Regions from separate parts of the Homo sapiens genome. Here regions 1 and 3 are each linked to region 2. The links come from fine-mapping of genetic effects on gene expression. A gene starts in region 2. Each other region holds a variant in brackets. All regions are shown on one strand. Distances are from middle to middle.

Region 1 (7,535 bases), 29 kb before region 2:
CTACACTTGCTGGGAGGATATTGTGGTGCCTTGTGTTAAAAGTCCTGGGTTATGGCATATGTGAAACAGCCGCGAAGGACAGAAGACTATTTTTACGTAATTAATTGCCTGGGAACTAGTTGTTTAAAGGAGAAGGGTGTTCGGTAAGCCTGAGTGGGTAAGAATGAGGAAGGTGGAACTTGAGCCTGGTCTTGAGGGATGGGTAGAATTAACAGGTGTAGGGGAGAGAACAGGGTTGGGGGTGAACTTGTTATGTTGTGAGCCAGTAAGGAGATTAGCCTAAGTGGAATGGAGAAGATGTGTTTGGGAGTGGTGGTGGGAAGAGGATAGATAGGCAGGGCTGGATTGGAGCAGAGCCTGGAGCATCAGCTTGAGAAGTTTGCATTACAACATCATAAATTATTTTTAAATATTTTATGGTTCTTGGGAAGCTGGCATGAAGGCACAATGACAATGTGTCATTAAGATCTGTATATCTACCTGCCTATCTTTGATCATCTCAAATTTGCTTTGTCCCTGAATGCCCCATATGAAAGAGGTTCCCTTGGTTATTTTTTCACAGCATTGTGTTCCTTACTTATTTACTTTTTCAGTTTTTTCTAGTGTGCCCTAGAATGAATGTTGCCAGGAGGCAAGGACTTGTTCTGCCTCCTTGTTGAATGCCCAGAATGTACAACAGTTTCAGATACACATTCAATGCTTTAAAAATATTTGTTGAATGAATGAATGCCCTGAGCTAAGTTTATTTCTTTAAACCTGATCTATTCTACCTTCTGAATTCTTGAATTCTGTTAGTGCTAACACCATCCATTTGGTCTGCTAAGTTGGATACTTGGAGTCAATTTTGATGAAGACATGAGTACAGGTCTTGACCATTCTTAAACTTTACATGAGGATTGTATTCCCACTGAAGCCTTGTTTTTTACTCCATTATGCCAAGTTAACACAATGTAACGTGTTGCATTTTCAATATGAAGACAGAAAACATCAAACATGAACAGTGAGGCTAAAGGAATGAGAAGTTATTGGGAGCCAGGGCCATGGGCAAATTGTAAACTGTGTGTATCTAAATGTAACCATCATATTATCTGTTCTGTCCTCTTCCAAGGGGAAGAATCATGTAATGGTTAAGAACATGGTCCCTGGAGTTAGGCTGCCTGGGCTCAAATTCTGGCTCAGCCACTTACTAGCAGTGTACCCTTGGGAAAGCTGCTTAACTTCTCTGTTTCTCAGTTTTCTCATCTATAATATATGGGTAAGAATAATACTTACAGAGTTATTGTGAGGATTAATATGTGGGAAGTTCTTAGAGCAGTGCTAGCATATAGTAAATGCTCATCAAATGTTATTATTAGCTATATTAGCTATTATTAGCTGTTAATATTTAGTGGGCCATTGAAACAACATAGGCTCTATTGCCATTTGGGCTGCTGATCTGAAACAGGTGGCCAGACTTCATTGAGGGATGACCTTTGCAAGGTGTGATTGAGGGTATGGGATTGAAGGAAATTTGGGATTTTTTGAGTGAGGACTGAGTTCCTGCAGGAGATATAGTCACCCCAAAGGGAGTTACCAGGTCCAGATGGAATTATTTCCAGTGGAATGTGCACACAAATTCTTTGACACAAGTAAGGAAGTATTACTACTTAGTTATCTATATGTGAATCTGCACAGAAAACTGAAAGAACTCTGTTGCTACCTTGCTTTTGCTTTTTTGAGGGAGAAGACAATCAAGTGTGAAGCCAGGCAAACCTTTGAACATTGTTATTAAGGCAGAAAAAGCCTTCTTCCTCTACTTTCCCATCCTCTCCTTCCTCACTGTCTGTTTCTCCCTCTCTGTAAACACAATGGGACATTTCATTTCAAGAGTGTGTCTTGTTGAGGTGGGGCAGAAGGGTTTGGTGGTTTTATCAGACTGTTTAACCATAAAACGTTTTTCATCCCTGTGTTCCTGTGCCCCACCATTTCAGGCACTTGGTATTTTTACTGCCTCACCCCCATCAACAGAGAAAAGGTGGATTTGATGTCATTTATTATATACTTTAAAGTAATTTTATTTTGCTGAATTTGTAAATACATGCAAATGAAATATTTTAGAGCTACAAAAACAACCATGGCCAGATATGTATGAACGAGGTCTTTCCCAGTCCCCCTCTGGGTTTTGCACAGATTTATTCTGAGGGTCCCTTAGTCCAAACTGGGGGATCCGCAGACAAAGAGATCAATATTTTTCTCTTCTAAATTCAAAAGGCAAGGTGCAGGTATGAGACATTAAAGTTTGAAAGAAGACGCTACTGGGAACATTTTTTTCCTTCTACTCCACCCCTATCCAGAATAGAAAAAAGACCATCTAAACAAGAGTGGAGAGGAGTTTGGAGAAAAAGTAGAGTAGGTTGTAGTGTATGGGCTGGGCCTGTGCTCTTCCCTTGCCCCAGACTGAGTGTGAGGAGTGGTGAATAAGAACACCACAAACCTGTCTGTACGTATGGGAATCCCAGAGCTGAGAGGACACGTGTCTCCTTTTCTTAGTGTCACCAAGATGACTGCAAACCCTGTAGAGAGGCCCTTCAGTGCTGTGGAGTGGAAAACTTGGTTTCACATGTTTGGCCTTGCTTGTTGGAGAAATTCAGACCCCTGAGTTTCTCTTAGCCCTAAAATGGCATGAGAGGACATCTGAAATTATCAATTATTCTTGTTCCCTTCTTAGATTCTTGCTTGTCTTCCTTTTCATCATTCTGATCTATCTTTAAGAGAGGTCACTTTTCAAATTCTATCTTTAAGAGGTTTTAGGTCTCAATATATTGGGTTTTCCCTTCAATATGGGTCCATTTTGGACTCTAAACCTCAAGTTTCCTTTTATGTGGTTCCCTCTTTACATTTATTCCTTGATACTTTCCCAGACCTGTTTCCAGAACCAAAACCATCTCTTCATTTAAAATATTCTGAAATTTCTTTATCTACTCCCTTAAGTCATTTCACTCTTTCTGAGCCAATTTGATTTTCCAAGATTTTACTGATTGGCCCTTAGCTTTGTGATAATGTCCTTCAGCATTCCTTCCTCTTTGGTGCAGTTGGCAGTTTCATGTCCAATATATTAGGGCCCCAGT[C/T]ATCACTGCCATTCTTTTCTTTTCTCTTCTCTTCTCTTTTCCCTTTCTTTTCCTTTCCTTGCCCTGCCCTCCCCCATCCCCCCTCCTCACCCCTCCCCATCCCCCTCTCCCCTCCCCACCCCCCCTTTCTTCTTTTCTTTTCTTTTCTTTTTTTTTTTTTCCTCTTTTGAATATTTAATTTGGAATGAAATTGGCAATCATACAATATAACAATTGTATATGTTCAGGTTTAAAAGATAGAGTCAAACACTTTTCCAAATTGATGGTAACAGTTTATGTTCCCAAGAGCAGTGTATGAATGTTCCAGTTGATCTACATTCATGATGTTTGTCTTTTTTATTTTAGCCATTTCAATGGATGTGTATTGGTATACTATCGTGGTGTTAATTTCCTGTTCTCAATTGACAAGTGAAATGGACTACATTTCACATGCTTCTTAGCCATTTGGATATCTTTTTTGTGAAGTGCCTGTTCAAGGTGTTTGCCCATTTTTCTTTTTTCTTTTTTTGGAAAGGAAAAAATAAATCTCTCTTTGCTAGAAGATTTATAATCACCTATATACAAAATAAAAAAACTATTTAAAACGCTACTAGAAATAATAAGTGAGTTTAGGATAATTTGAGGATAGAAACTCAATATACCAAAATCAATTATACTTCTACATACTAACAGTGAACAATCAGAAAGTTTAAAAGTTTAAATGCTATTTACAATAGCTTCCAAAATCATCAAATACATAGAAATAAATCTAACTGAATCTGTGCAAGATTTGTATAATGAAAATTACAAAACCCTGAAGAGAGAAATTAAAGAATACTTAATAGAGAGATATACTATATTATTGGATTAATATTGGGAAGATGTCAATTCTGCCCAAATTGATCTTTAGATTTCTTTCTTTCTTTTTTTTTTTATTGATCATTCTTGGGTGTTTCTCACAGAGGGGGATTTGGCAGGGTCATAGGACAATAGTGGAGGGAAGATCAGCAGATAAACAAGTGAACAAAGGTCTCTGGTTTTCCTAGGCAGAGGACCCTGCGGCCGGCCTTCCGCAGTGTTTGTGTCCCTGGGTACTTGAGATTAGGGAGTGGTGATGACTCTTAACGAGCATGCTGCCTTCAAGCAGCTGTTTAACAAAGCACATCTTGCACCGCCCTTAATCCATTTAACCCTCAGTGGACACCGCACATGCCCCAGCAAGCACAGGGCTGGGGGCAAGGTCACAGATCAACAGCATCCCAAGGCAGAAGAACCCCTCCCAGTACAGAACAAAATGAAGTCTCCCATGTCCACTTCTTTCTACACAGACACAGCAACAATCTGATCTCTCTATCTTTTCCCCACCTTTCCCACTTTTCTATTCCACAAAACCGCCATCGTCATCATGGCCCATTCTCAATGAGCTGTTGGGTACACCTCCCAGACGGGGTGGTGGCCGGGCAGAGGGGCTCCTCACTTCCCAGAAGGGGCAGCTGGGCAGAGGCGCCCCCCACCTCCCTCTTGGATGGGGTGGCTGGCCGGGCGGGGGCTGAACCCCCACCTCCCTCCCGGACGGGGCGGCTGGCGGGGCGGGGGCTGAACCCCCACCTCCCTCCCGGACGGGGCGGCTGGCGGGGCGGGGGCTGAACCCCCACCTCCCTCCCAGACGGAGTGGCTGCCAGGCGGAGACGCTCCTCACTTCCCAGACGGGGCGGCTGCCGGGCGGAGGGGCTCCTCACTTCTCAGACGGGGCGGCTGCCGGGCGGAGGGGCTCCTCACTTCTCAGACGGGGCGGCTGCCGGGCGGAGGGGCTCCTCACTTCTCAGACGGGGTGGCTGCCGGGCGGAGGGGCTCCTCACTTCTCAGACGGGGTGGCTGCTGGGCGGAGACACTCCTCACTTCCCAGATGGGGTGGCTGCCGGGCGGAGGGGCTCCTCACTTCCCAGACGGGGTGGCTGCCGGGTGGAGGGGCTCCTCACTTCTCAGACGGTGCGGCTGCCGGGTGGAGGGGCTCCTCACTTCTCAGGTGGGGCGGCTGCTGGACGGAGGGTCTCCTCACTTCTCAGACGGGGTGGCCGGGCAGAGACACTCCTCACCTCCCAGACGGGGTCGCGGCAGGGCAGAGGCGCTCCCCACATCTCAGACGATGGGCGGCCGGGCAGAGACGCTCCTCACTTCCTAGACGGGATGGCGGCCGGGCAGAGGGGCTCCTCACATCCCAGACGATGGGCAGCCAGGCAGAGACGCTCACTTCCCAGACGGGGTGGTGGTCAGGCTGAGGCTACAGTCTTGGCACTTTGGGAGGCCAAGGCAGGCGGCTGGGAGGTGGAGGTTGTAGCTAGCCGAGATCACGCCACTGCACTCCAGCCTGGGCAACATTGAGCACTGAGTGAACGAGACTCTGTCTGCAATCCTGGCACCTCAGGAGGCTGAGGCTGCTGGATCACTCGCGGTTAGGAGCTGGAGACCAGCCCGGCCAGCACAGCGAAACCCCGTCTCCACCAAAAAAATATGAAAACCAGTCAGGCGTGGCGGCACGCGCCTGCAATCGCAGGCACTCGGCAGGCTGAGGCAGGAGAATCAGGCAGGGAGGTTGCAGTGAGCCGAGATGGCAGCAGTACAGTCCAGCTTCGGCTCGGCATCAGAGGGAGACCGTGGAAAGAGAGGGAGAGGGAGACCGTGGGGAGAGGGAGAGGGAGAGGGAGAGCGAGAGCTTTTCTTTCTTTCTTTCTTTTTCTTTCCTTCCTCCCTTCTTTCTTTCCTTTTCTTTCCTTCCTCCCTTCTTTCTTTCCTTCCTTCTTTCTTTCCCCTCTCTCTTTCCTCTCTTTCTTTCTTCTTCTCCTCTTCCTCCTCCCCCTCCTCCTCCTTCCCCTTCTCCTCCTTCTCCTTCTTTCTTCTTTCTTTCCTCTTCTTCCTTCTTCTTTCTTCTTCTTTTTTCTCCCTTCCCCCTTCCTTTTTCCCCTTCCCCCTTCCTCCTTCCTTCTCTCTCCTTTCTCCCTCTTCTCTTCCTCCTTCCCCTCCTTTCTTCTCCCTTTCTTCTCTTCCTCCTCCTCCTCATCTTCTTCTCCTCCCCCCTCCTCCTTTCTTTCTTCTCCTTCTCCTCCTCCTCTTTCTTTCTCTTTCTTTCCTTTCTTTCCTTTATTTCTTCCTCCTCCTCCTTCTCCTCTTCCTTTCTCCTCTTTTCTTCTTTCTTTTTCTTTCTTCCATTTGTTCTTTCTTCCTCTCTGTCTCTCTTTCTTTCTTTTGTCTTTCATTCATTTGTTCTTTCTTTCTCTCTCTTTCTTTTTTCTCTCTCTTTTTTTTTCATTTGTTGTTTTCTTTCTCCCTTCCTTCCTTCCTCTTTTCTTTCTCCCTCCTCCTCTTCATGATCCTCCTTCTCCTTCTTGTTCTTTTGGCTTATTGGTAAAATCTACTGCTCCTTTCTGATTGAACCCATAGCTTTGGGTCAATGAATTACAAAGTTAGAGTTTCAGTAGGATTTTTGAAGTAACTACCTCCTCACCTTAACCGAAACTAGACTTTTCCTGAATGATACTACTTTTCAGCAGTTCCAAGTACAGGTTACACATTCTCCCTCTGTTGTGTTGTGGCTAGAGGTGCGTTGAACATGATTTTGTTGCTCACCACTGTGGCTTCTTTCAATAAACACTCCTTCATTGATGCACATACATTCCACCCTCTTTCCATCCTTACTTTTTCCTTGACTGATCTCCTTCCCCTATAACCACATAATCTTCAGTGAAGACTTTGGCAACTGTCTATTTCTTTCCACCCTAGCTATTATAATCATTCTGGAAAACTTCAACAGTCATGTTGGTGATGCATCTGGATCCATCATTTCTTACACTCTATTGATCTCTACCTCCACTCTACCTCAGCCAGCTATTCAAATGACCACCCCCTGGACCTTGTCATCAACCATAACTGCTCCACCTCTGAAGCTGTGAACCCTGAAATGTCACTCATTGATCACACAGAATGGCCTTTTAGCTCTCCTACTCTTAAGTTCCCACTAAGCCTGTTCTTAAAAAATAGTCTTTTTATTTTTATCTTGAGTAATTGCATGGCTACCATCTAGAGCTGACAGTAGTAAACTTTTTGTTGTATTTGCTTCAGGTCTTATTAAAATGAATAAAACATTGCAGGTAAATTTAAGTCTCCTGTGTTTCTCACCCCCAAGTTCTAATCTTTTTTTTTTCTTATCAGAAGTACCACCAAAATTAATTTGGTAAATATGTGTGATGTATGTGTATAAATATATGTGTATATATATGTATAAAATATGTAACTACATTTTAAAATTTATGTAATGTAGTGTACATATTAATAGTTTGCAACTTGATTTTCACTCAAAGTTATTATGTTTTTAAAATCTATGTGTATATATAATAGTTATTTTCTTCTAGGTGCACTGTAGCTTTCCAATATAAGAATATAGTATACTTTATC
Region 2 (7,535 bases):
AGCTGGAAGACGAACCTGAGCTAGATCTGTGTCGTTCACCCCTAGATGACTGTCCTGACCTAGAGCCGTGTTGTCCGTAGCCAGAGGAGTGACCTGAGCCAGATCCATGCTGACTGTAACCAGAGGACTGCCCTGAGCTAGACTTGTGTTGACTAAAGCCAGAAGACTGGCCTGAGCCAGACCCATGTGTGTCATTGCTGGAAGACTGTCCGGAGCCAGAGCCGTGTTGGCCATAGTTGGGAGACTGCCCTGACCCAGACCCACATTGGCCGCGGCCTGAAGACTGATGGGAGTCGGAGTTTTGCTCACCATAGCTGGAAGACTGACCTGAGTAGGAGTTATGTTGGCCAGAAAAGTCTCTTTGAAAACTCAGTCTTCTGGATATGGATTCAGTCCCAGGTTTAAGACTTCCTCTGACGTTTCTGGAATAGGAATCATTCTCTCCTGCACTCCAACTTGAATGACTAAAAGAGGATTCTTGCCGTTTGTTCTCCTCTTTTTCAGTTTCTTCTTGTTCCTCTTGGTGCTGGTGAGTGTCATCTCTCAGCTTTGACCCTGAAACTTGGCAGTAATCTTTGCCAATGATTTTATTACGAGCCTGAACCAGCTTGAATATCATCAGAAGATACTCAGTAAAATCCACTTTCTTGTTATGGTCTCGATCCAGACTTTGCAAGATGATATCCACAGTATCTGGATCGTTTGGATTCTGTATAAGAGAAAGGTACAAAGAGTAGCTCTGTTAGTATGGACAATACATCTGGCTAACGAACTGAAGGAAAGATGTGAAAATGTAAATGTTTGGGTTATTTATATGGAACTCATTCACACAGTCCTTTAGGCTGCATTTCTGTATCCTGAGCAGAAAGAGAAAAAGGAATATGGAATGAATAATGTGGTGGGAAACAGCTAGAATAGGATGCAACTGGAAGATGAAAGGAAACAAGAGGGCTGATTATTTTTGGTAAAGAATGGGTCAAATATGAATGATTAGCTAATTTATAAGTAATATGTTTTTATACCTACATTAATTATATCAACTTTATTTATCCAATTAAATTAACTAGCTACTTAATTTACTCACTGAACAAAGATTTATTATTTTACTAGTTGCCTACCATTATGTCATATGAGAGTATAAAGAAGTGAACAAGTTTGCTTCCTGAAAAAAAATGGAATTTAAAGTTTAGTTGGCCAGATATACAAACTTAAAATTATAATTTATTGTGGTAAGGTTTCTACAAGAGTACATCAGAGAGGAAACATTGGGGGTCCTAGAAAGGTTAATGAGAGGAAATGATGCCTTTTGAAGGATGGATTAGGATTAGCCAAATGAAGAAGTAGGAAGAGAAAGAGAAGGGGAAAAGATTGTTCTAGGCAGAGGGAATTATATGAACAAAGGGCTAGAGGTGAGAGAAGTTATGGAGCATTCAAGGAACTGAAGGAAATTCAGGATTGCTAGATTTAGAGTTTGAAGAGTCAAGAAATGTGGATAGAGAGACAAATAGGGACTAGATTATGACTTTTAAGTTATGTTAAGGAACTTTGTACTTCATTTTAAGAGCAATTGGGAACTATTGAAGGATTTTTAGCTGAGGAGTGAAATGATTATATTTGCATCCAATGCTGAGAGTAGAAGTAGTAGGTGGCCTGAACCAGAGGACTAATAATAGTGATGAAGAGAAATGGGTTGTTTTGAGAGATTATTGATGAGTTAGATGGAGGTTAGAAGGTAGTGGTGTCTGCTGAGAGAGAGACAATAAAAAATGACACCAGGTTTTTGCTTTGGGCAAAAAGATGAAGGAAAAAGGTTAGTGGGGAAGATTATGAGATTCATAGCTGACACACTGAATATCTGACATCTGATATCTGAATATCATATCTGAAATCCACAGAAATCCAAATTTAAGGAATTGAAACTCAGGAGTCTGATATAAGGTCCCAAATATCTAAGCTATCAAATCTAGACCTGACAGTTTTAAGGTGGTGGACACATTCTTTTGTGATTCAGGAGTAAATGCCAATTTCCTGAACTCAGAAATCTACTTCACAGTTTTTCTGAGGACTGTCTGGGTTTGTAGGAATTAGTCACTTAGATAGGACATTATTTAACCTGTGGGTTTTGTTTGTTGTTTAGTAAGGTCACTTCCGTTAGTTATGCTATGGAAACCATCACGGATCTGCTTTTGACCTTATCTCAAACTTTTACCAAACCCTGTTCTCTCTCACCAAGTAAGGACAATCCTCTAGGATGTTTGACATATGTGACAAGAAGGTGGAAAGGGATAAAGAAGAAAATTCCTGCATAACTCCATCCTGGCGTGGAGTTCTTACCTTCAGAATTTGATGAAACTCATTTTCCAGAAGTTCTTTCAGCTCTGCCTTGTTCAACGTATCATACTCCCCATGCTGGGTGGCATATTGGTAGAAAACATCGATGACAGTGATGACGCCTTGTAGGAGTTTAGGCATTTTTTTTTTTGCAAGTTTGAGTAACCTAAAGGGAGGAAAAAGAGAGACCAACCCCTTACTATTCTTATTTCTTGTTTAAACACATAAATAGTTCTAATTATTTATAATAATTGTTCAGAATTAGTCAGTCATGATTAAATTCATTCTGTTGTAATCAAGAACCAATTCAGAGTTGAATGACTTGTTCAAGCCATGTAGCAAGAGAGTGATGAAATTAGGAATATAATCCATAGGTCTTATTTCCATTCCTGAATGAATGTAGGAAAAATGACTTTCTGTTTTTGGCTTCCTGCCATTACCAGGGATAATATTAGCTTTGTTCTGGAGCTGTAGAAGTCCTGAGTGTTCCACTTCATCTGCTTCCTCTTTCTAGGTTCGAAGCATACTGTGGGCATAGGTCCATCATCTACATGACATGCCTTACTCAACCTAAGGAGCATCAATGGCTGAACTGAACTCTCAAGACTTCTAGGTCAGAGAAAATAGACAATGTGAGCAAAGCCAACAAGCCTAGGTGATATGAAGCTAAGGGTAACTGCTATTAGATCCAGCTTCTGTTCTCATTCTCCAAGCAGGAAGTGACCCTCAGACCTTATTACACAATAGAGAGGAAAAGCTCAGTTGTAAAGAAGGCAACCTGCCTGTGGATAATTAGAACCCCATGATATCCATGTTATAAGGGAAGCGACCTCAAAGAAAGGAGATAATATACATAGTCCTAGTCTTTGTTTCATTTTTCTTTTCAGTAAATTTAAACTTATACCAAAGTTCCCCAGAGTATACTAAAAAGAAGCCTTGTATCTAGTGCCTCTTTGCCTTAGAGCACATCCTGGACTTTCATAATTTATAGCCCTAAGTACCCTTGAGCGGAGTTGAACTGCTCACTTACCTAGCTCACCAGAGGAACAAGTAGGGTAGAGACAGAAACAGCTTTCAGGGTGCTGCGAGTTGGGCAGAGTGGCCTTTTTATAGAGGGAATAATGGTCCCTCTTAGGGAGGAGTTGCTAATTTTGAGATGTCCTAATTTACTCCTAAACAAGCCCATCTCCACCTCTATCTCCACCTCCCAGGTGTTTACCTTCTTCCTGACTTCCTTACAGGTTCACCTAAGATTGCATTAGCAGTTCCCAAATCTGGGCTACTCTCAGCCCCACCTGCCAAAGGGTCAGGACACTGCAGAAAGGCCTGTTTTTGTATTCATCAAACTATCTAGCACAATATATTGACAACAAATTGTGTGGATTTTAATAGAAGTTGAATGGAGTGTGTGCAGGGACATCATGGCCCAAATGTCAAAAAATCATGGAAATTGATGATTAAAAGGACTGTAAAGATCATCTAGTCAAACTCTCCCATTCTAAGCTAAATGTTCTTAAATGGTATTCCAGCCAAAGTGTCATCTTTGGTATTGTTATTACCTTTTGAATTGGATAATGGCTCCAGGCCATCCTTTAACTCATTAAGTACCTCAATTTACCAGACCCCTTATTGGCCATTCATCACCATAGCTTTCATTTCAAACACCATATAACCTTAGGAAGAAATGCGTGCTTGTTAGCATGGTATCCATGGTTCCTCATGATCTGGGCTGTGGCTTTTTTCCAGCTCCATTTCTCCCCTCCATATTTCTCTTTGTACTCCAACAGTAATTAACTAGTAATATTTCAAACTTCCTCAATATACCATGGGATATGTTATTTCATATTTTTTCTTAGAATGTCTTTCCTCATTGTCTGCCTAGTGAACTAATTATTCTTCAAAATCCAATTTAGGCTTCCCATAGAAAATCTTTCCTGAATTACTCAAGAGGGAGTTGTAATTGTGTACCTTATTCATATTTATTGTTGTATCAATCATACTATATTGTAATCTTTAAAAATTGTTTTACTATACAATTATTGTTTAATATAAAAATTAGAAAATATTGATAAGCAAATAAGATAAAATCAAAATACCTTTAAAGCCACTAGCCAAAAATAACTACTGTTAGTTATTTGTTGTATATCCTTGCCTTTCACAAACACACACATTCACACACAGACACACACATTTGTCTATGGGCTTATTTCATTTCTAGGCTATGAGCTCCTTGAGAATAAGGAATGGACATTATTTATCCTTATGTCATTTGGAGACCTAGTATACTGCTTGTCACATAACGGTCTCCAATAAATGTCAGTTTGAATTCATTTGAAAGAGAAGCAAGGATCAAGACTATAGTCCTCTGCATTGGCCAACTTCCATCTTTTCACAGGAGGACTAGGGTCTGCCCTCTCTCTTGCCATCTTTGCCTCAGAGGACATGATTTTACCTGAATATAAACGGAATCTTAGCATTGAGAATCAATGAGTGGCTTTCTGCTTTTTTCTGAGGCCCTCGCTCTGCATTTCTTCCATTGTGAACATATAACACAAATTTCACTGAAGGTGTGTGAAGTTACATGGACTTAAAACTTGTGCAATATGGTCATCAGGATTTGAGAAGGTGTGGTAGCAACTGTTGGCAAGTGATAAATTACATGATTCCAAATTCAACTATTGTTAGGCTATGTGTTTTCTTTTAAGAATTGCCCAGAGGGCTGCAGAGTCAGTATCCATTCTGTAGCCGTGTTTCCTCTGGACATCTGATTGGGCCAGGTTTTCATGCTTCATCAGAACAATGACTTTTTAAAGGTGTGGCTGAGACTGTGGGAGTAAAGGGGGGTGGAATTTGCTGAGTGAAGACTGATTTCCTGCAGGAACCAGCTGTTGTCACGAAGGGAGGAGAGGGTTGTGAGAGAAGACTATTCCAGGTGAACGTGCTCTTGGGGCTAGTGTTCTCCTGAAATAGGGGCCAGCAAACTTTTTTTTTTGTAAAGGGCCAGATGGTACAAAATATTATCTCTGCAGGACAGATAGTTTTTGTTGCAACTACTCAACTCTGCTATTGTAGCATAAAAGCAGCCATAGATGATATGTAAACAAATGAGCATGGCTATGTTTCAGTAAAACTTATTTATCAATACTGATCTTTGAATGTCATATAATTTCACATATCATATATTTTTTCAACCGCTTACAAATGTAGAAAACCTTTTTATCCTGTAGGCTACACAAAAATGGATGACAAGCTAGCTATGAACTGCAGGCTGTAGTTTACCACTCTTTGCTCCTCTTCTGTATTTGCTTTTCAGGAAGATTCTCTGGGAGAGGAGGATCTGAGAGAAAAGAAGGGCTGAAAAGTGTGGGACATCAGAACCACTAACTCTTGCATGAGAGAACAAGAGTGAAGGTGAATTTGTAAATATCAGCATGTGTGGGGTGGTGGGGAAAGGGAACAGAACAAGGGACCTTTGGCTGCTCGTAAAAGGGAGATAAATTTTGATTTGATGTAAGGGAGAAATATTTAATATTTGCATTGACTGAAAATGCAGTGAGCTCTTTGTGAAGTAACTGAATTTATTGTCAAGTATCATATGAATAGTTTTTTACTATTAAAGAAAAAATTAATTCTTTCATTACGTTGTTTTCTGGATATGCTCACCAACTAGAATTTTGTTGGGCTTTTTTTCCTCGTTTGTATCATGAAAATAAGAAGCATATTACATATGCGTCTTGGTCTCTTCTCTCCCCATTGAGAATTACTTATTAAGAGTAGGACTAGATTATCACAAAAGTCACTTTCAAAACAGTTTCTTGTTTTTTTTAGAGTGTGTGCTCCATAGTAACAGAGTTGGACATGAAGATTCCTCCATCATGGGTTTGGTTAGTGGTTTTTCCACTTGGAGATGATAGGTTTCAGGAGAAAAGCTTTTCTATGGTATGTGCCATGTTCTAGGTTTTTGAGTGCCTTTCTCTGTGTGTTGGCAGAAGAATGAAAATTACATTCCTTTTTATGACAAGCACAGTGCTTTGTGTGTGGGTGTACATTGTTTCATTAATTCTTACAACAACCCTGTTATCTAGATATTATATTTCCATTTTGCAGATGAGAAAACTGAGGCTCAGATGAAATCTGTAACTTGTTTCAAGTCACTTAGCTGTTAAGTGGAGAAGACAGAATTCAAATTCAAATCTGCTTTTTCCTAGGAATAGTCAGCAAGTAGGGAAATATTCATGTCTTGGTAAAGGAAGGGTTTTGGAAACAGTTCTTCAGGAATGGAGTGTTTCACCTAGGAAAAACAAACAAACAAAACTAGCAAGGATAAACAGTGAAGTTCCAGTACCATCTGTGTGCACTCATTTTTTTCTGCCTGTCTGGAAGGCAGAGTAATGTGCCTATTGCACCATCTGCTGGGTCATAGGGAAATTCTAAAGCAGATCTTTTCTTCATTGCCTTTTCTGCCCTTTTTCCTTACAGAAATTATTTCATGGAATTTCTATAGTTCTTTGTAGCCTAGTCTCTATAAATGAGGAGACTATGTAAAAAATAGGGGTATGTATATAAGAGAAGGTTGATGGTCATGATTTTGGGTAAATGGAATCAAAAGAAGTTAGCTATAATATGAAACTGGTTAAATAGTGCTTCCTTCTATATCCTCTTTTGAGTCCTTTTTACTGTTATCTCAAAAAATAAAAAATGGATTCGATATAATTTTACAGCTTAGTATATATTCCCTGGGGATGAGACAGGCATGGTGACATATCTTTCAGCTTCAGACCCACACCCTGGAATATATTCTGCTTCAGTACTGGTCTGCCTATTGAGTTGTTTCTTTCTCCCTTAATATCCTCCATTTTCTCTTCCGAGAACTCCAAAATGCTTCAAATGCTGGGAATCCAGAGCTCATTCATACATGTATCCTTTTATTTATTCCATCAGTATCTTTCTCTAATATATATATATATATATATATATATATATATATATATATGAGAAAAAAATATATATATAGTTTTTTTTTTTGGGTCTCACTGTTGCCCAGGCTAAAGTGCAGTGGTGCAACCATGGCTCACTGCAGCTTCCAACTCCAGGGCCCAAGTGATCCTCCCACTTTAGCTTCCCGAGTAGCTGAGATTATAGGTGTATGCCACTGCATCTGTCTAATTTTTATATTTTTTTGTAGAGATGAGGTCTCACTGTGT
Region 3 (7,535 bases), 110 kb after region 2:
TCCAACCATTGCCCATTCTTACTCCTTGTGGTCAGGGTGAGGGGGTGAGTTTATCTTTGACTTATGAGGGTGAAGATGTTGCTTGGATGTTAGTGGACAGGGATGGGTAAGCATGTGACCTGGGATGTCTAAGGCAGAGTGAATCTCAGGACTATTGTGTGAACTACCAATAAAGACATAGCATTCCTCCTCCACCTCTCCCCCCAACCCCTTGGCCCCTGCACCTTGAGATTTGAACAGGGAAGAATGTAGGCCAAGCTGCTGCAGCCATCTCATGACTACATGTCAAAACTGTAGTCAACAGAGGGAAAAGCAGAGCTGAGAGATTGAGAGACTCACCCAATCTTGATGATATACTTTGAGCCTTGGAGTGAGTACAGCCTGCTAGCCCCATTTCAAGACTTTTCAATTACGTGAACCAATACATTCTCCCTTTAATTTAATAAGCTTTGAGTTGTTCTATTACTTGAAGCAGAATTAGAACTGATATAATTGCTATTTACTTTTTGCTGTGTTCTGCATTCATAATAAATATAAAAAACATAGCAAGATAACCAGGGGCATGTTAATGCAAGGGTGGTAATAGAGAAAGGGGAGGAAGAGGAATAACAAGCCCTCCCCTCAGTTCTTTCATGTCTCCTCTTTTCCTTCGGATTAAAGATCAGATCCCTGAACCAGTATCATCACATTATACTTTTCTAAGTTTTATTTTGTTTTTAACTGACATCTAGTAATTGTGCATGTTTATATTTAAGTGATGTTTCTATACATGTTTACATTATGTAATGATCAAATCAGGGTAATTAGCATATCAATCACTTCAAACATTTGTCATTTCTTTATGGTGAGAATATTCAAAATTCTCTCTTCTATTAATAGCTATTTTGAAATATAGTATATGATATTGTTAACTGTGGTTACCCCACTGTGCAGTAGAACAGTCAGATAAGAGGAATATTATACTTTTAAAAGGATAAATTCCTTTGGGGGCAAGAGCAGGGTCCTGGCTAAGTACATGAGGCCTGCCTGAGGAATTTCTATGGAAACAGGAGTGTGTGTCTGTGGCCCTAGCCCTGCTCAGCATTGGAAACTATTTGGTAGTCTGAACATGGTTCCTCCTGTAAACTAAAAATAAATCTTAAAGCCCTCAACTGACTGAACAGACCCTCCCCACCCCAATCTTGGCCAAATGGACCCTAGATAAATCTTAAAAACTGAGTTCCCAGCCATGATGGCTCAGGAAGTCAGACATATCTTGTTATATACCCTCCCTTTTGCAGTGTTTAGACACAACTGGCCAGCATTGATGTGAAAATAGAGAATGTAAGACTGATAGAACAGACTCTTTGTGGCAGTAAGATACCAAATTGTAAACAGGAGCTAAGACCATGCCAGTCAAGGGTTAAGTCACACACTTCTGCACTTAAAGAATAAACTATGTTCTAAATGCCATAAGGTTTCTATTTTTCTTCAGCAGCTAAACAAGCACTGGCCTTCAGGTAAGCAATATGAAAACAATTTGTAGCTCATTCACTGCCAGACACTGACTCCATCCCCCTGTTTCACAAACTATAGCTACAGCTTTGATTAGACGAGAGGCTATTTCAATAACTTTCTCCTGATAAGAAGACCACCGACCGTGGACGGATTCTGGCCAGTTTACAAAGGCTGCATACGTGAGTGCGTTTGTGTCCTGAAACGACCTTATAAAGCCTTATTATAATATATTTAAATGTTAAGTCTCCACCCCAAGGTGAACATTGGTCAGATGTAATATGTACATTTATTCAGTATGTGTGCATTAGGAGGACCACGAATATTCATGGCTCCTTCTGTAATCCATTGAATATGTTTAGTCAACCCATTCAGCATAAAGTTCCTATCCCAATCCCTCCTCTTTTGAAGTACCTGCCTTTCTGGCGTCAGCCAGAGGCCAGGCTTCCCAGCTTGTCAGAATTTGCCTGTCAACTTTGCAACTGTAACCCTCTATGAGAAATATAACTTTCCTTTCAAAATTTATAAATTGTGTAATTTTTAAGTTAACACCCCTCTAGAAAATGATTCAATTTTCCTTGTCTTTCTTTTCCTTTGTCTTCTGAAGTCAGAAATCCAGAATCTGTTTGTTCTTAGGTCTCAGCCCTTTTATTCTCTCCTATGCTTTCACCAAGGATATTCTATTGTAGCAGACAGTTATGTGAGCTTGCAAAATTAACCATTCATAGACTTTGGCCCCAGAGTTTTTGCTGACTTGAGACCATCAGCACTCAGGATATCAATTTTTTTTTTAAATCCTAGGTATAGAGATGTGAGTTAATCATATTCCTTATTTCATGGCACATTGTAATTATTGAGCTATGCAGACTCTTCTGTGGAAGAGTTGGTTAACTTTCATCCCCATTCTTTATTCCCAGTCCTCTCCTCCTCCCTCAACAGATAAATTATTCTAATGAGTTTACTGTATATGGCTTAACTTGTACAGGTGTTTGTAAAGTATCTATTGTTACTTTTATGTTCATAGAGTTTTACTTTTATGTAAGTGCTATTTTTTTTAGATCTCATTCTTTTTTTTACCTTTTTTTTTCATTTAGTATCCATGTTGCAGTATGTAAGTCTAGTCCATTGCTTCTAATTGTGCTGTTGTTTTGCATCTACTCAGTATACCTCTGCACTTCCCTGGTGATGAACACTCAAATTGCTTCTAATTAATTCCTCAGCACTAAAAATAATGCTGCGACGAACATCCTCTTACATATGTCCATTATGGATCTCTGGGAGACATTTTTGGGGGTCATAAACACAGAAGTAGAATTTCTGGGTGGTAGGCTATATGTATACTTGATATTGACTAGATACTGTCAGATAACTCTCCAGAACAGCTTTACTTTCTTACCAGGAGTACATGAGATTTCCTAAACCCACATCCCAGCCAACACCTAGCAATATCTAGTTTCCTAACTTTTTCCAGCTCATTTCACTGTTATTTTGATTTTGATTTCCCTTATCCATGAGTTTGAACATCTTTATGTATATTTGTAAGCCATTTTGATTACCCTATTCTATACATTGCCTGTTCAAATACTTTGTCCATTTTTCTGTTAATTTTCTTTTTTACTTTAAGAAGTTCATTGTATGTTCTAGACGTTAGTACATTGTTATTTTTAGACACTGCAAATAATTTCAATGTGTCTTCTCTCTGTTAACTTTGTTCGTGGTGTCTTTCACTGAACAGAAATCTTTAATTATGATGTAATAAAAGTCATCACTAGTTTTGTATTATGTGTGCCTGTAAAGTTCTATCTACAATGTTCTTTCCTGTGCTGAGATTACTAAGGTATTTTCCCATATTTTCTTCTCTTTACTTTGTTGTTTTAAGCTTCACATTCAGATATTTATTTCATTTGCAGTCTATCTTTGTATGTGACTTTAGGTAAATATCCAATTTTGTTTTTATCTATGGCATGAGCCAGGTTTGCAACTCCTTCTATTAATCTGCCCTTTTCCCATTGATATATGGTACCCACTTTACTATATATTAAGTTCCCATATAAACATACTTAATTTCTAAGCTCCTTATCATGTTTCACTGATCTTTTTGTCATTGCAATAATATCACATTGTTATTATTACTTGACTGTGTAGTATGTCTTAATACTTGGAAGGGCAAGTACCCATTCTTTGCCTTTTTCTTGAAATGTTGACTTACCTGTTCGTGGATCTTTATTCTTCCATAAAAACTTGAGGTTATTGAACTTCTCAAGAAATTCAACACAAATATTTTGAAGTATTTGTGATTGTGTTGAATGTATAGATTAATATGAACTGACATGTTTATAATATTAAGTCATC[T/C]CCCCCAAGATATGGAATGTCACTCCATTTATTCAGATAATCTTCTATGTCATTTATTAGATTTAAAAATTTTCTCCATGGAAGTATTATATGTTGTCATTATTTTCTAGTTATTTAACATTTTTTGTTGCTGTTCTGAATGATATCTTATTTTTAAATACATTTTGTAATTGGTTATTGTTGGAGAGAAAAGTGCTTTTAATTTTTGTAACTTGATTGTTTCTGATAAACTTGCTGAATTATCTTATTAGTTGTAATACTTTGTTGATTAGGTGCTTTTTTCTAGCTAGAGAGTCATATTATCTTACCTGCAAATAATGTCATTTGTTTTCTTTTTTTTTTTCTACCAATGTATTTATTTCTCTTTCTTTCCTTATAGCATAGGGCAGGGCACCCCACTATGGCAAACACTAATAATGATATTGCTCCTGATTTTGTTTCTGAAGGGAATGCCTCTAAGATTTCTTCATTAATTATAAGGTATACTGTATTTTTTGATATATTAATAAATTTCCATTTATTTCTAGTATGAGTTTTTATCTTTGATATGCATTGAGATTTGTCAAATGTATTTCCTGCATTGAGATGAACATGTTATTTTAATTTTTTTAGTATATTAATGTGACAAATTTTAAAGATAGGTTATGTGATTTTTAATAGTTTTTGCATCCTGTTATCAATCTGAATTAATTATATATGATTATATATGTAATTATATATAATATGTATATAATTATTAAGCATGTATTTTGTAGACAACATGTTGAATCTTTTTTGTAGTTTTTATCAACTATAAATGTCTCTGTTATTTCATTAGTTTAGGCTATTTACATTTTTGAAATTATGTTATTTTAATTATGTTCATTTAACTAACATAGTATTTCTGCCATCCTGTTTCATACTTTGCCTTTTCTATAGGTTGTTTAAATTTTTTTTAAAGGCAATGATTGGCTGATTTTTTCTATTAACAGATAAACTCCAATTAAATAAATAAACAACCCATATTTGACTATATATTGTTTATTAAAAACACACCTAAAACAAATGACAAAGTAAAGATTAAAAGAGAAGGATGTAAAAGATATGGCAGGCAAACACTAATGCAGTTAACAGCAGATTAAAATAGAATTAAAGGTAAAGTGTTTTGGTAATTAAAGGCATAATATATTTTGCAACCTTTTGCAAAGGGTTAAAGAGCAGTAAAAAGTAACAAAAATAACTACAGATAAACTAATGATTTAAAAATAGAATATTATTGTCAGTTATCCCTTCAAAAAGCTGAAAAAATTGAATATTATAAACAACTAAGTACCAGTAATGTTGAAATCAACACAAAATGGATAAGTTAGTAAGAAAATGTCAATTGCCAAGGAATCTATATCTGACTTTCTATTTTCAACCATGAAAGACTGACTGTTTCAAACTCCAAAGTCAGGAGGCCCACCCACTAGTTTTAGCTAGATCTACCAAACCTTTAAGAAATCCACATTTTGCATGAACTATTCCAGTGCACAGAAAAGAATGAAAATTTCCCAACCAATTTTGTCAGGTACAAAAATTAGATAGTGAAAGCCCAAGAACATAAAACTATAGATTAATTTCACTTATGAACACAGAATGCAAATATCCTAATAAAATATTAGCATATCAATTCCAGGAGTGTCCCAAATTTATTTCCCAAATAGAGTTTACCAAAAGATTCCAAGATCTGTTTAACTTTTGAAAATCAATTAATATCATTTAAAAATAAGTGAAAAAAACATATAATCCTTTCAGTAGATTGAACAAGACATTTGATAAAATTTTAAACTCATTTGTAGTAGAACTTTTCAGCAAATTAGGAATAGAAGGGAACTTTCTTAATCTGATATTGGCTATCTAACAGAAATCTATAGCAAACATTATACTCTACTTCAAATACTGAAACATTAGAACAATGTCATTGAAGTCAGAAAGAAGACAAGGATGCCTACTATGAGTACTAATATTTAGATAGTCCTAATCAATAAGAAATGAGGTAGCAATTCCACTTCTGGGTAGTTATCCAAAACAATTGAAAGCAGGGATTTGGACAGATACTTTTTGACCCACGTTCATAGCAGTGTTATCGACAATAGCCAAAAGGTGGAAACAGCCTAAATGTCCGTTTTGTTAATGGATAAACAAAATGTGGTATTTACATACAATGAAATATTATCCAACCTTAAAAAGGAATGGCATTCCAATACATGCTACAACACAGTTGGGTCTTGAAGAAATTATGCCAAGCAAAAGAAGCCAGACACAAAAGGACAAATGTTGTATGACTTCACTTAGATAAGGTACCTAGAGTAGTCAAATTCATTGAAACAGAAAAGAAAATGATGGCTGCTGATGGAAAGGGAGAATGGAGGATTATTGTTGAATGGATACAGAGTTTCAGCTTGGGAAGATGTAAAATTTCTGGAAATGGAAGGTTTTGACTGTTACACAACAATATGTATGTACTAATGCTACTTAATGGTACACCAAGAATGATTAAAATGATAAATTTTATATTATGTGTATCTTACCGCAATAAATAATTTAGAAATGTGGAATCAATGTTGAAAGAAAGATAATTTGTTCATCAGTTTCAGACAAAATGAACCCCCCAAAATTAATTGACAAACATTCAAAGATAATAAGAGTGCAGCAAGATAGTCAAATACACAATCAGAATGAATACGTTCACAGCTTCCTATACAATAGAAATCACCAATTCAAAAATATGATAGAAAAATTCCATTTGTATTAACAACAAAAATAAACCCCCAAATAAACCTAATGAAAAAGTGAAATACTTTTATAGGAAAAAAACTTACAAAAGGATATAAAAGAAAATCTGAATAAATTGTGAAATACAGCATGTTAAGATGACCAGTTGTCTGAGTCAGTTTGGAAAATGTATGGGGGTCTTTAAAAAAAAATGGAATTACAATATGAGCCATCAACTTCACTTCTGAGTGTATAGCCAAAGGAATTAAAATTGGTGTTGAAGAGATATCTGCATTCTCACTTAAACATACCACTTAAAAATGTACACTAAATGTTAGGTGTTTTCTGTGTGTACACACATGTCTATAAAAATATCTTTAAGTTTTCTGGAAAGAATCAAGCCCTATTCCTCAGTGATTATTCCTGGGTACAGAAAAGAAGTTATTGGATTTGGGATGAAGGTCAGAGGAGGCTGTAGCATATATCTACAAATATTCTAATTTTTCAAAGGAAGAATATATTTCTGTATCATTTCATAATTAAAATCAATTTTTAAAACGTTTTTTATTTGCGGCATGTTTTTGTTGAATGAATGCATGGTATGAACTAATAATGATGTGTTCAGTAATTTTCATGCATATAATTAATAGGAGAATAGTTTTGATGACAATTTTATTTATTTACAGTAATATATTGGCTTATTTTACTAGCAGGCTTGCATGTCTGTTTGTTTGTATTTAGAGACTGGGTCTCACTCTGTTGCCCAAGCTGGAGAACAGTGGCACCATCATAGCTCACTGCAGCCTTCAACTTCTGGGCTCAAGTGCTTCTCCCACCTCAGCCTCCCAAGTAGCTGGGACAACAGGTACAGTCCACCAAACCCAGCTAATTTTTTTATTTTTTTGTGTGTGTATAGACAGGTTCTCACTTCATTGCCCAGACTGGTCTCAAAC

Alleles and levels. Positions count from the first base shown, and alleles are read on the strand shown. Sizes are in standard deviations (SD) of each study's normalised expression. Not every link is listed here.
In carriers of allele T in region 1, the expression in coronary artery of the gene that starts at base 3,412 in region 2 tends to be higher than with C alone (large effect, 0.88 SD a copy in GTEx).

What was found. PIP is the estimated chance that this variant, and not a neighbour inherited with it, causes the effect. A credible set is the group of variants that fine-mapping cannot tell apart.
Region 1: its variant is the best candidate, but not a certain one, in a credible set for the expression of HRNR in coronary artery (GTEx, PIP 0.87).
Region 3: its variant is the best candidate, but not a certain one, in a credible set for the expression of HRNR in visceral fat (GTEx, PIP 0.71).

What each region holds. Positions count from the first base shown.
Region 1 is chr1:152,191,471-152,199,005 of GRCh38, forward strand. The region is part of intron 1 of CCDST (cervical cancer associated DHX9 suppressive transcript); the gene reads left to right. Among named protein-coding and RNA genes, the nearest start is that of CCDST, 5.9 kb to the left of the region's middle. RefSeq lists an enhancer at 4,839-5,339. The variant C/T (reference allele first, on the strand shown) is at 3,108.
Region 2 is chr1:152,220,782-152,228,316 of GRCh38, forward strand. It overlaps HRNR (hornerin), which reads right to left and starts at 3,412. Exons shown (of 3, transcript NM_001009931.3): 1 at 3,362-3,412; 2 at 2,335-2,497; 3 at 1-709. The coding sequence starts at 2,472. The region is part of intron 1 of CCDST (cervical cancer associated DHX9 suppressive transcript); the gene reads left to right.
Region 3 is chr1:152,333,764-152,341,298 of GRCh38, forward strand. It overlaps CCDST (cervical cancer associated DHX9 suppressive transcript), which reads left to right. Exons shown (of 8, transcript NR_186765.1): 5 at 1,576-1,676; 6 at 4,226-4,326; 7 at 7,324-7,447. Among named protein-coding and RNA genes, the nearest start is that of FLG, 12 kb to the left of the region's middle. The variant T/C (reference allele first, on the strand shown) is at 3,847.